3 separate regions of the Homo sapiens genome follow, and regions 1 and 2 are each reported to be linked to region 3. Evidence: microRNA targets listed by miRTarBase, many of them from high-throughput screens and not tested one by one. Region 3 holds a microRNA gene; each other region holds the end of a gene's coding sequence.

Region 1 (4,217 bases), not on the chromosome of region 3:
TCTCGCTCTGTCACCCAGGCTGGAGTGCAGTGGCGCGATCTTGGCTCACTGCAACCTCCGCCTCCTGGGTTCAAGCAATTCTCTGCCTCAGCCTCCCAAGTAGCTGGGATTACAGGCGCCCGCCACCACGCCCGGCTAATTTTTGTATTTTTAGTAGAGACGGGATTTCACCATCTTGGCCAGGCTGGTTTTGAACTCCTGACCTCGTGATCCACCCGCCTCAGCCTCCCAAAGTGCTGGGATTACAGGCGTGAGCCACCGCGCCCGGCAAGAATTCAAAGTTAAAACAGGTTACCACTTTCACCTATTACCATCAGGTTGCTTATTTTTGTTTTATGTTTTTTATTTGTATGCATGTTTACTTTATGTTTCAGTTTACTACCCCCTAAGGCAGCAAGAGAGCAGGAAGATAAGCAAAATAGAGATGTTTTTGACAACTTGGCACTGAGAGACTATCCTAAGGGAATAATCTGAAATACATAAAAACATTTTATTCACAAAATTGGTCATCACAGCATTATTTACAATACTGAAAATCTGGAAATAGCCTAAATTTCTAACAATTGAAAGAAGGTTAAGTAAATTATAAGACTACACAATAAAATATATTACCAGCAATATATCTTTGTGAAAATCTATAATAACCACACATAATACTTAGTAAAAAAGAACATAAATTACATGATAAAGAATATGACCAGAACAATGCAAAAAATTCACACCCCCAAAAAAGACAAGATATTATATGGCAATTTTGTGGTAAAATATTCATGTATTTGTGCTGCATTTCTAATTTTTCCGTAACTGACACATCAGTTTTATAATTAGGAAAAAAATACCTTTTTAAAGTAAAGCGAACACAAGATTCTTTAGCAATGTTCATTCCATCCCACAATAGAGTCTAGAGAGTCACAAAAACCTCAGCCTCCTTCGGGAGGGGGGGAGCTTGGTAGTGAAAAATGGTCATGAATGAATGGGTGAAGAGAGGGATGGGACAACCTAGTAGGAGGGAGGTAGGGATAGGCAAGGGAAAGGTGGGGACCAGTAGTCATACTGGTCAGCCAAGGAAAGGGGCATTGTGGAGTCAGGGAAGACTCTGACTGCTCAACAGAGGTCTGTCTAGACCCAGTAGTAGGCACTGACGGTGTTATCAAAGGACAGGATCAAAGAGAGATTTTAGGAAGACACGTGGATTATTTTAGGGACAGGGGAGGAAAGAGGAGGGGTGGGTAAACTACTTGGAAAGAAAGGGAGAAGGACTGAGAAGATGGCAATGGGAGTGGGGAGGAAGGGGCTGATTGCCTTTGTGACCTCACTACCAAACATACTTTGCTCACCTCCAGATAAGTCTTTGTGGGGCAAATGCAGGATAAAGAAACAGCTCATAAGAGGCACTTGCCAACATCCAACAAATTCAGTTCAAAACCACAGAAAATCTAGGAGTCTCCAAAGAAAATCACAGTCCTGCTGTGTTGCCGAGGCTGGAATACAATGGCACGATCTTCATTCACTGAAACCTCCGTCTCCTGGTTCAAGCGATTCTTGTGCCTTGGCCTCCCAAGAAGCTGGGATTACAGGCATGCACCACCACACCCGGCTAACTTTTGTATTTTTAGTAGAGACGGGGTTTCACCATGTTGGCCAGGCTGGTCTTGAACTCCTAACCTCAAGTGATCCGCCTGCCTGGGCCTCCCAAAGTGCTGGGATTACAGGTGTGAGCCACCGCATCCGACTTCTAACGCACTGGGTTTTAACAAGCCCCTCAAGTAGTTCTGATGCTCCCTCATGTTTGTGAGCCACTGAATGAGGGCCATGCAAAATGTCTAGAATCACTAGTTCTGCTGTCAGCTAAACCACATGAAAGAACCCCTGCTCATGTGAAAGAGAGATTTCTACAAATAAAGTGACGGGAGGACCACTAATAAGTTATGTCCAGCTTAGTGGGGTTGGGGAAAGGTTATATGAAGCAACAAAGATACAGTTTCTCTAAGCCAAGTAAAGGTAAAGAACTGTGGAGCAGGCAATAAAGCCAAATGCACTGAACTATGTCATAAGGAATTTACAGGCTGTATTGTAAAAGCCACAGTGAACATGATGACAGCAACAACGAGGATGAAGAACAGCAAAGAAAAAGCTGAGGGAAACCATCGACCAAAGCAAGCGGAGGCTCAAAAGAGAGACGAGCTTCAGGATCAGGAAATGAACAGGGCCCTTCAGTCACGGAGAAGTCGTTGTTGCCAGAACAGTCAGTCACTTAACTGCTTAGAAGATCACCGTGTTACCATATAACCTCTATTGTAGGCTAATTAATTTTTAAAATCTGTCTAAAATTTACTGATTTTAATATAATATCTTGTCATTTTTGGCAACAATACACTGAAGTAACAATGTAGTTTGCTGTATTTTGTTTCACAAATATTTACCTGGAAACACTGGAGACTTTGTAAAGAGAAAATTACTAAAAATTACTCCTTCACTACAGGACAGTAGATATTTAATATTTATTTAGAAAGCTATTGACACTTCTGATGACTACTGATAACTGAGAAGATTCAACATGTTATAAATATGAGTTGTAAATATTCCATCCCTTTTGAGATTATATACACTAAGCTTTTTACTACCACTGGCCTTTCTGGATACTTTCATATTTAGAGAATATAGAACTACATTCTGGGAGATTGACAATGACCTAATATTACACTAATGAAAAGTCTTCACAGTCCTCAAAATAATTTAGAATTTAATGTTTTCTTTAATAAGCAATTAAAATGGAATATTTTCTGCCTCCTGAATAAATACATGTCTGTAACCAACCATCCCTAAAGAAGGATACTAATATATTTTGAGTGATTCAATCCACCCATGGATATAGTCACATCTTTAAATGTTTTCCAGTGTGAACAACAGTCTTTTAATAGATGGCCATTGAGTTCAAGGGTCATATTATTTGCTAACAAATTATTATTTGGGCCAGAAAGTATCTGAAAAAAGTTTAACCAAATTTCCTACACATCTCATATCTCTAGTTTATTAAGCATTATTTATTATTTGGTGTAAAAATTCTACATTAATTACTTCATACATATTTTATCTTGAGATTATGAAATCCCATGGTCTTAGAAACAAAAGATAGACTTTAAGACACTGGCTTCTGCTATTTTTTTTTAACTTTAGATTTGAAAAAGAAACATGGATTACATGTTAACATAATATTTTGAATATATAGGGCTCATAAGATATATTATTAAATTATAAACAAAATAATCAGGAACTTAGTGTGGTGCCTAGTTTGATATATGATTACTTTTTGAAATGCACTAAATTCCACAAATAATGAAAGTATTCTTTGTGTATAATGTTATGTTTGGTTATTATGTATGGTCTTCGTATCCAAAGGTATGACATAACTTGAGTTTGTTTGCTTTGTATTTATTCAGTAAATAAGCCGTAACTGTTTTAAAAAGAGGGAAATTAAAAAAAAAACTGGTCCAATTACCAATTATAAATTTTAATAAAGACTAAACGAAAAGGTTTGGCTGTTACATATTCTCAGGCCAAATTGTTGATGCATGTTTGGATTAACTAGCCCTCAGGCTGCTTCCAATATTATGGGTAATCACAAAACGACCAGCTCTAACTCCTCCTCTCACCAGCTGGAAGGGAGCACATCACATTTGCCATCCATGGTTGGCAAAACTCAAGGCATCAACAACTGGAAAAGATCTCCACCTTGGGAATCATTATACATATTGTGATCCTGCAATGGGTCAGAATCCACAAAATACAGTTCCCCTGCATGGATGTCAGAAAAGTTAGCTAGAAATTCATCAGGATTGAAGCCAACCCACACAGTATACCTATAGTCTATGGTGCGTATGGAATAGCCCATGATCTTTATATCTTTTAAACTCGGCTTGTCAGAATTCCACTGAGGGATGTCTGAAGGCCGGGGATACTGGCTATAGGCAATCAGTTCACGGGGATTACCAGGGAGGTACGGATCCTCTTCCAAGTCACGGAATCGAAAATGCTTCAGAAGGTTCTTGCCTTCTCTGCACAGCTCAACGTGAAATGAAGGAACGGGGCAGCGAGGTGGAACCTGCAGTCCTGCAAGTCCAGCCAGCGTGGGAAAAAGAGACACAAGTTCCACAAGGTCCATGGATTGCCTGCCTGAAACAGGAAGCGACAGAGCAGAATGGGTTACATTATAAAAG
Region 2 (4,251 bases), not on the chromosome of region 3:
AGAGAATTCACACTGGAGAGAAACCATACAAATGTGAAGAATGTGGCAAAGCTTTTAACTGGTGCTCGAGTCTTACTAAACATAAGAGAATCCATACTGGTGAGAAACCCTACAAATGTGAAGAATGTGGAAAAGCCTTTCACTGGTGTTCACCCTTTGTTAGACATAAGAAAATTCATACAGGAGAAAAACCCTATACATGTGAAGACTGTGGCAGAGCGTTTAACCGGCACTCACATCTCACCAAACATAAGACAATTCACACTGGAAAGAAACCCTACAAATGTAAAGAATGTGGGAAAGCCTTTAACCACTGCTCACTACTTACTATACATGAGAGAACCCATACGGGAGAGAAACCCTATAAATGTGAAGAATGTGGCAAAGCTTTTAACTCATCATCAATTCTTACTGAACATAAGGTAATTCATAGCGGAGAGAAACCCTACAAATGTGAAAAATGTGACAAAGTCTTTAAGAGGTTCTCATACCTTACTAAACACAAGAGAATTCACACTGGAGAGAAACCCTACAAATGTGAAGAATGTGGCAAAGCTTTTAACTGGTCCTCAATCCTTACTGAACATAAGAGAATTCATACTGGAGAGAAACCCTACAACTGTGAAGAATGTGGAAAAGCCTTTAATCGGTGCTCACACCTTACTAGACATAAGAAAATTCATACTGCCGTCAAACGCTATAAATGTGAAGAATGTGGCAAAGCTTTTAAACGGTGCTCACATCTTAATGAACATAAGAGAGTTCAAAGAGGAGAGAAATCCTGCAAGTATAAAAAATGTGGGGAAGCTTTTAATCACTGCTCAAACCTTACTACGTAAGAATTTTTACTAAAGAGAAATCCTACAAATGTAAAGAATGTGGCAAATTCCATAAATCTTGCTCAAGGCATTGAAATCACAAGATAATTCATACTGGAGAGAAACACTACAAATGTGAAGAATGTGGGGAAAGTCTTCAACCATTGCTGACAGCTTATTGCACAGAAGAAAATTCATGCTGAGAAAAATTCTGATTTTAAAGAATGTGGCAAAGCATTTAATAACTACTATGAACTTACTCATCAGAGGTTTTGTGCTAGATAAAAGCAATGTAAGTGTAATGATACACATTACATTTATCTGTGGAAAGATGTCACCAAATAAAAGCCTTAGAGTACACAAGGTGTAATGATAGTGATACATTACATTTGTACATGGAAAGACTTCAAAAATATAAGCCTTAGAGTACACAAGAGTTTTTATACTGAAGAAAAACATTACAAATATAAAGATTGTTGCAATACTTTTACTTATGTTACAGATTTTGTTGTACATAGGAGAATTTATACTGAAAGGTAACCCTCTAACAGTTGCTCAAATTTTATTCCATTTTAGATAATTTACATTGGAAAGAAACCCTACAACTGTAATGAATATGAAAAAAATTGTTTAAAAAGTACACCTTAGAAAACACTAGTTTAAGGCCGGGCGCGGTGGCTCACACTTATAATCCCAGCACTTTGGGAGGCCGAGGCAGGCGGATCACGAGGTCAGGAGATCGAGACCACGATGAAACCCTGTCTCTACTAAAAATACAAAAAATTAGCTGGGCATGTTGTCGGGTGCCTGTAGTCCCAGCTACTGGGAGAGGCTGAGGCAGGAGAATGGCGTGAACCCGAGAGGCGGAGCTTGCAGTGAGCCGAGATCGCGCCACTGAACTCCAACCTGGGCGACAGAGACTCTGTCTCAAAAAAAAAGAAAGAACGCTAGTTTATATGAAAGCATTTAACAGATGCAGTAAATATAAAAAATTAATAAAAAATTAAGTCTAAATGAACATCAGAAGATTCACAGTAGAAACCACTAAGACGCTAACACTTTCAATGTTATTCTAAATCAGGGCATTGATTATAAAGAGTAATTCAAGGTTAACATAATTTAGTTAGCCTAAACAGAAATAGGAGATTAATATTTTGAGACTTAAACAATTATATTCAAAGTACACTTTTTGCATTGAAAGAATTTTAGATTTTTACAAAGGCAAATTTTGATGTAATTGAACTCTCAAATTACTTGATGCTGTGTCTTTATTCCTAGTGTCTGTATGAAAGCATGTGGTCAATTTCTGCTGCTCGGGGTTTGAGAAGTTCTATATTAGGATGTCATTTACATACTTTTCAACAGAAGATTGAGGACACTGAAATATGAGGTGTGTGAAGAAAGTACACAGAGAAACTTTTGTGGTTGACTTATAAAACTTGTAAGTGCTGCATGAGATAGATGTTCAGAGTAATAGTCTTGTGCATTATTCAAATTTTAGTAAATTGTTTTACCAATTGCACATTAGATAGTATAGTGGATTTTGTAATGCTTTTCTTAGACTGTGTGAACTTAGTTTCAATAAAACAATTATTTTTAATGTGTTAAGACAGTTGTGCATTGAATTAGGTGTTATCCTGCCACCAACATTAACCTATTTTACCTTACTCAAGTCTCTAGGTAACAGACGGTAACAACATACTATTCAGTAATATAGTGGAATGGCATCTCTAGTGATTCTTATCCTTAGTGACTTTAAACTTCAAATACGTTGGAGAATATTGTTTCCATAGGTTACATTTTTATTATTTTTCTTCTAATTATAGAGTCATTAAGATGATTATTATGAAAATTACACAGGCATATAATCAAAAGCCATATATTTCTGAATCTTAAGTGAGTATGTAGAAGATGTTATCTCACATTTTTCTTTGAACATGCAACCTCTGTGGCCTTCCAGACACACATAGACTCTTTAAGTTTTCACTTACATGAAAGTTTAATATACAAATATGTTACTCTAAAGATAAAGTGTAAGGGAATTATGAAGCAAGTAATTGTATTTGAATGTGGATGTGTACCTATTTTGAGAAGAAAGAAAATATGTTAGAACAAACTGGTAATTTTTAAAGTGTTGATAAGTTACTACCAAACTGGAAACCTCAAACAATTTCAAAGCAAATCTATTTTTCCCATTTGTATTGAATTCATTTTTTCAAAATCTTGTGGTTCCTAGTTCAGAATCTCCTTAAGTAAATCTAGGTTTTACTTGCCTGGTATTGATAGTAGACCTAATGCATAATTTTCTTTTTTTTTTTTTTGAGACGGAGTCTTGCTCTGTCACCCAGGCTGGAGTGCAGTGGTGCAATCTCTGCTCACTGCAAGCTCCACCTCCCAGGTTCACGCCATTCTCCTGCCTCAGCCTCCCCAGTAGCTGGGACTACAGGTGCCCACCACCACGCCCAGCTAATTTTTTTGTATTTTTAGTAGAGACGGGGTTTCACCATGTTAGCCTGGATGGTCTCGATCTCCTGACCTTGTGATCCACCCGCCTCAGCCTCCCAAAGTGCTAGGATTACAGGCATGAGCCACCATGCCCGGCCAGTTTTCTTGTTCCAAAGTTTATAAAGTATTCTTTATATAATCTGCTCGGGAATTATTGGAATAATTTTTACAAAATTTAATGGTGCTTGCAAAATAATTTGAACATGTAATTTCATAGTAAATATGTTGTAACATTTTATTTAGTACATTTTTTTTCAATTGGAGAACTCTAAGCCAATCTTTCCTTTGTTGCTCTTTTAATTTTTTTTTTTTTTTTTTTTTTTTTTTTTTGAGACGGAGTCTTGCTCTGTCGCCCACGCTGGAGTGCAGTGGTGCGATCTCGGCTCACTGCAAGCTCCGCCTCCCGGGTGCACGCCATTCTCCTGCCTCAGCCTCCCGAGTAGCTGGGACTACAGGCGCCCACCACCACGCCCGGCTCATTCTTTTGTATTTTTAGTAGAGACGGGGTTTCACCGTGTTAGCCAGGATGGTCTCCATTTCCTGACCTCGTGATCCGCCCGCCTCAGCCTCCCAAAGTGCTGGGATTACAGGCGTGAGCCATTGCGCCTGGCCTTGTTGTTCTTTTAATTTTTATAATTAACATTGAGTTTATTGATCTTATTGGGTTAATTTCTTTAGGTGAACACTAGGGAGATGTCATCAGTCATGGTAGTGTTTGTTTCTTTTTTTATCAACTCTTACGTCTCTACATCAGACATGGTGTTGTTTAGTCATAAATGAAGTGAACAAACACAGAAAAGCACTACCATGTGTAATACACACTCCATAATTAGTGTTCCAATTGGAGTGAGTTGGTGGCTCCAGGAGATTAAAATTGCCGTGAGGACATCACCATTTAATATTCAGTGGACATCCTGTTAATATTTAC
Region 3 (4,251 bases):
ACTTGACACCCAACCATCTTGAAGAGGGGATTTGAAATGCTGTAATTTTATCCCAGCTTTGTTCAGCCATGACAAGTGACCTGTCAGATGCTTAGTATTGTAATAACCTCATTTCCCTTTCCAAATTTAGAGTATCTTTAATACTATTTTTTTTAGACAGAGTCTCGATCTGTCACCCAGGCTGTAGTGCAATGGCCGCAGTCTTGGCTTACTGCAACCTCCATCTCCCGGGTTCAAGCGATTCTGCCTCAGCCTCCTTAGTAGCTGGGATTACAGGCGTTAGCCAGCACACCCAGCTAGTTTTTGTTTTTTTAGTAGAGACAGGCTTTCACCATGGTCTCGAACTCCTGACCTCAGGCGATCCGCCTGCCTTGGCCTCCCAAAATGCTGGGATTATAGGTGTGAGCCATGGCACCTGGCCTAATACTACTTTTAACTACCATTTTCACTTTTTATTAGTTCAAGAAAAGGCATACACATTTATTCAACATGTATACCTGGGGAGAACCAGTCATTACCCCGATGTTCATTATTTTGATCACCACGATAGAGCTGACTACTCTGCTATGTAGTGCATTTTGGGACTGCACTTATGTATGTTTTTGTTTAACGTGGACAAAGACTTACAGATAGGTGCAAAAAATAAATCCTCTTTTGCAACCCAGAACTCATTGTTCAGTATGAGTTTTGATACATATAAGAAGGGATATTATGATACCTGAGACAGTTGATTGATGGGAGTATTGATAGCCATAAAGGTTGGTTCCAGGCCAGGTGCAATGGGTCAAGCCTGCAATCCCCACACCAAGGTGGGAGTATTGCTTGAAACCAGGAGTTCAAGACCAGCCTAGGCAAGAAAGTAAGAAACACATCTCCACAAAAATTTAAAAATTAGCTGGGTACTGGGGCATGTGCCTGTAGTTGGAGTTACTCAGAAAGGGGGGAGGCTGAGGCAGAGTTGGAGGCTGCACTGAGCTTTGATGGCACCACTGTACTCCAGCCTGAGTAACAAAGACAGACCCTGTCTCTTAAGAAAAAAAGGTTGATTCCAGGCCTGTAGAATAGATAAACAGCATGGGATATGAGGGAAATCCTCAGCAGTATTAATTTTGCATTCCAATTTCATGTTGATGATATACACAATGGCTTTTTGTTTTAAAGGCTTTTATCTTGAGAACATGGTGTCTGGAGTTAAAGGTATGTCTCAATTTGAGTTTTCACATCATATTTGTTTATGTGTAGGAAACAGTATGTTGTCAGAGCAAGTTTCATTTTATTCAGGGACATTTCTACCATGCTTTTAATTCCCATTTATACTGATTTCTGAAAAGAAGAATCCTAGATTCACACATTTTATAGTGATGTGTCAGATTCATTTTAGTTGCAAGCATTAGAGGGTCCTGAATTTGTTAGTTTGTAGCAATAATCAGAACTTTGGATTTCCTACTTGAAGCCTACAGCATTATTTTGAATTAATGCACAATCTAAAATGAGGCAGAGGATTTTATGGTTTAATGCAAAATATAGTATAATAAAAGATGATTACACAGGTCATAAGAATTCATAAATTTGAATGATGTAGAGTTTGATTAAAAGTTATATAATGCCAAAGTCGTAACTTACAGGCACATTATATTCCTGTATTTTATAATGGATGACAATTAATTTTGAGCCAAGAATTAAAATTTGCTGAAATCTTCGAATTGGGAAAACAACATCCTCTGTTGCAATACTGAAGTTCATAACAACAGTTAGACTTTAAACTTAAATCTTAAGTTTAAATCTTTTTCCTTTGGTTCATGTAAAGGAGCTACTTGATGTTACTTTTTATTTATCATTCCTCTGGCTCCTAAGCACAACGTGATTGTGAAATTATTGTTTTTGTGATTAACGTAGTAGGAAGTTTCTGCAGTTGGCAATATTGTAAGAGCATATTGCAGTTTCTGCTCATAATTTCTTTCCTATGGAGTGTTAGACTTTGTTATTTATGTGTATAAATACTAGCTGGACACAGTGGTGCCTGTGGTCCCCAGCTACTCTGGAGGCTAAGGCAGGAGAAACACTTGAGCCCAGCGGTTTGAGGCTACAGTGAGATGTGATCCTGCCACATCTCACTGTAGCCTCGAACCCCTGGGCTCAAGTGATTCAGCAAGAATCACACGATTTTTAAAAGACATGGCAGATCCTGTGTCTTTAAAAAAAAATCAAAACCTTGTAAATAGTGGTTGAGGTCTATCCCGATGGGGCTTTTCCTGTAGCCTGCACATCGTTGGAAACGCCTCATAGAGTAACTCTGTGGTTTTACTTTACTCACAGGACTATTGTTAGATCTGTGGGAAGGAATTACAAGACAGTTGCTAAAAGTTTGAAAAAGACGGTTGCTAAACGTTATGAAAAACCAGATAATCTACTTTTTTACCTTAGGTATTGGCATACTCCACACATCTGTACCATTCTTGAGTGATCGCTTAGGTAAGTTTTAATTGGTGACAGTATAATCTTTTGGGAAATAATGATTACAGTTCAGATGATGAATTTAACTGTTCAACTGCTGAATGATAACGGGCATGAACTAAAACTTAATTCTGACAGAGCTGGATATGGCTGTATAATAAACTGGATCTTAAATTTATACTTGGGTTTTAGTTTTAATAACTGGAAATGTATCCTTTCTAAATCTTTAATTGGTACTTTCTATAGGAATGAATGTGATTTGAACTCATTCATGTTGAGAGGTAAGTAAAATATTTAACTTATAATAATCAAGGACTCAAAAGATGAAAAATAGAAATTACACCATCCCAGTATTTCAGGTATAACACAGAATTAGTAAGATACTGGCAAAAATATTACAATGTATATATTTGTATAGAGAAGGAAAATGAAGAGACTGCATGTCTATACCTACCAAACGAAACTACCTGTGTTCTTTGCATCATTATTCAACTGGCAGTTACACATATTTCATCCTAAAGTCACGTAAACCTGTGTGGATATGTTGAATCAATAGGGATATGAATTACATAAAAAGAATTTTGTGTAACTGGCAGTTTGAGCAACAATGAGCTTGACGTTTGTTGTCTGATCTGTTAAGTTACATGTATATATTCCATCTTTAAGTTTTATAGAGAGACTGGGCAAAGATTAGGCAAAGACTAGAGTTGTAGCTTAAAATGTAGTTAATGTAGCTTCCTTATTACAGTGACAATTAGGAAAAAAGCTCAAATTATTGTACTTGTTAAAGGAATTTGAGAGGTTTGTGAAAGCATTTCTCAGCAATATTGCAAATTTGGGAATACGAGTTGTACAGTTCAGTCATAATTGCACTGCATGGTATCTGCACTCAGCAGTTTACACCTGCTAGGGTGTTCAAAGGTCAGTGCTATAGAAATTCAGTATCTGGCATCGTTGGTTTTCTTGGCTTTGTGCTTGTTAAACCTGGTATTTCTACTGATACAGTATTTGTGTAGGTTTCTCAGAGTGTTCAGTTTGATATACTCTAAAATAGTAAGCAATGCTTTTTTTTCCAGGGTGTCAAATTGAGAACCAGGTAGATCCCCACCACCTACAGTAAAAAGGTAAGATTCTCTGTTTCTATTGATTCTGCTTGTTTCCCTCTATCAGTAGCACTGCCAGCATAACAAGAACTTCGTACAAATACACTACTAAGCTTTAAAGACTTTTACAATGCCTCATTCTAGAGAATGGGCACTGTTGATCATGGTGTCCAAAAATAGTTAATGTGGCTAAATTGAGACAGGTTATGCTTCCATCACAGTATGCATATTGCAGTGGTGACAATGAGACCTGTAACATTTTGCTATGTTTATGAGTAAAAATGTAGGAGAAAAATGTTGACTTTTCAATATTAGAAATAACATTTAATAAGGAATTTTCAGCTCTTATAGGACCACTTTTTTTATGTGCTGTATATTGACTGAAACATTGTAATGTGGTATACATTACTGTGTCTTGGATCAGGTGTCAAAATGTAACTGTACTTTGTACAATTCAACTTCTAGGACCCTAAAGTAAATTGGTTGAAGAAATTAGATCCCAAAGATTCTTGGTAAGTTAATTCATTACTTAAAAGGCCATGCAGGTTATTTTGTTGAATACTAGCTTTTCTCCAAATGTTATTTTAGGTTATTTATTTATCTAGCAATGCTATTGCAACATCTATCACCACTTAGGAGTAAAAAAAAGGACTAGGCTTACGTTATTATGTGTTTAAACTTCATTATTAACGAT

The links. Region 3 holds the annotated microRNA hsa-miR-1304-3p (UCUCACUGUAGCCUCGAACCCC, at 2,110-2,131, shown strand). A microRNA usually pairs through its seed, bases 2 to 8, with sites in the 3' UTR of a target mRNA and lowers its output. Matches are read on the target gene's strand: a 7mer-m8 pairs with bases 2 to 8, a 7mer-A1 pairs with bases 2 to 7 and ends in A, and an 8mer does both.
Region 1: the mRNA of IDS is a reported target of hsa-miR-1304-3p. Seed matches in the 3' UTR shown: 7mer-m8 at 45-51.
Region 2: miRTarBase lists ZNF682 as a target of hsa-miR-1304-3p. Seed matches in the 3' UTR shown: 7mer-m8 at 1,692-1,698.

Annotation. Positions count from the first base shown.
Region 1 is chrX:149,479,046-149,483,262 of GRCh38, forward strand. IDS (iduronate 2-sulfatase) reads right to left here. Exons shown (of 9, transcript NM_000202.8): 9 at 1-4,173. The coding sequence ends at 3,701. Among named protein-coding and RNA genes, the nearest start is that of IDS, 24 kb to the right of the region's middle.
Region 2 is chr19:20,002,593-20,006,843 of GRCh38, reverse strand. It overlaps ZNF682 (zinc finger protein 682), which reads left to right. Exons shown (of 4, transcript NM_033196.3): 4 at 1-2,426. The coding sequence ends at 839. It also overlaps the pseudogene BNIP3P12. Among named protein-coding and RNA genes, the nearest start is that of ZNF682, 35 kb to the left of the region's middle.
Region 3 is chr11:93,731,571-93,735,821 of GRCh38, reverse strand. MIR1304 (microRNA 1304) reads left to right here and starts at 2,058; the gene lies at 2,058-2,148. TAF1D (TATA-box binding protein associated factor, RNA polymerase I subunit D) reads left to right here. Exons shown (of 6, transcript NM_024116.4): 6 at 1-255. SNORA1 (small nucleolar RNA, H/ACA box 1) reads left to right here and starts at 3,689; the gene lies at 3,689-3,818. SNORA8 (small nucleolar RNA, H/ACA box 8) reads left to right here and starts at 3,323; the gene lies at 3,323-3,461. It also overlaps SNORD5, SNORA18, SNORA40 and SNORD6.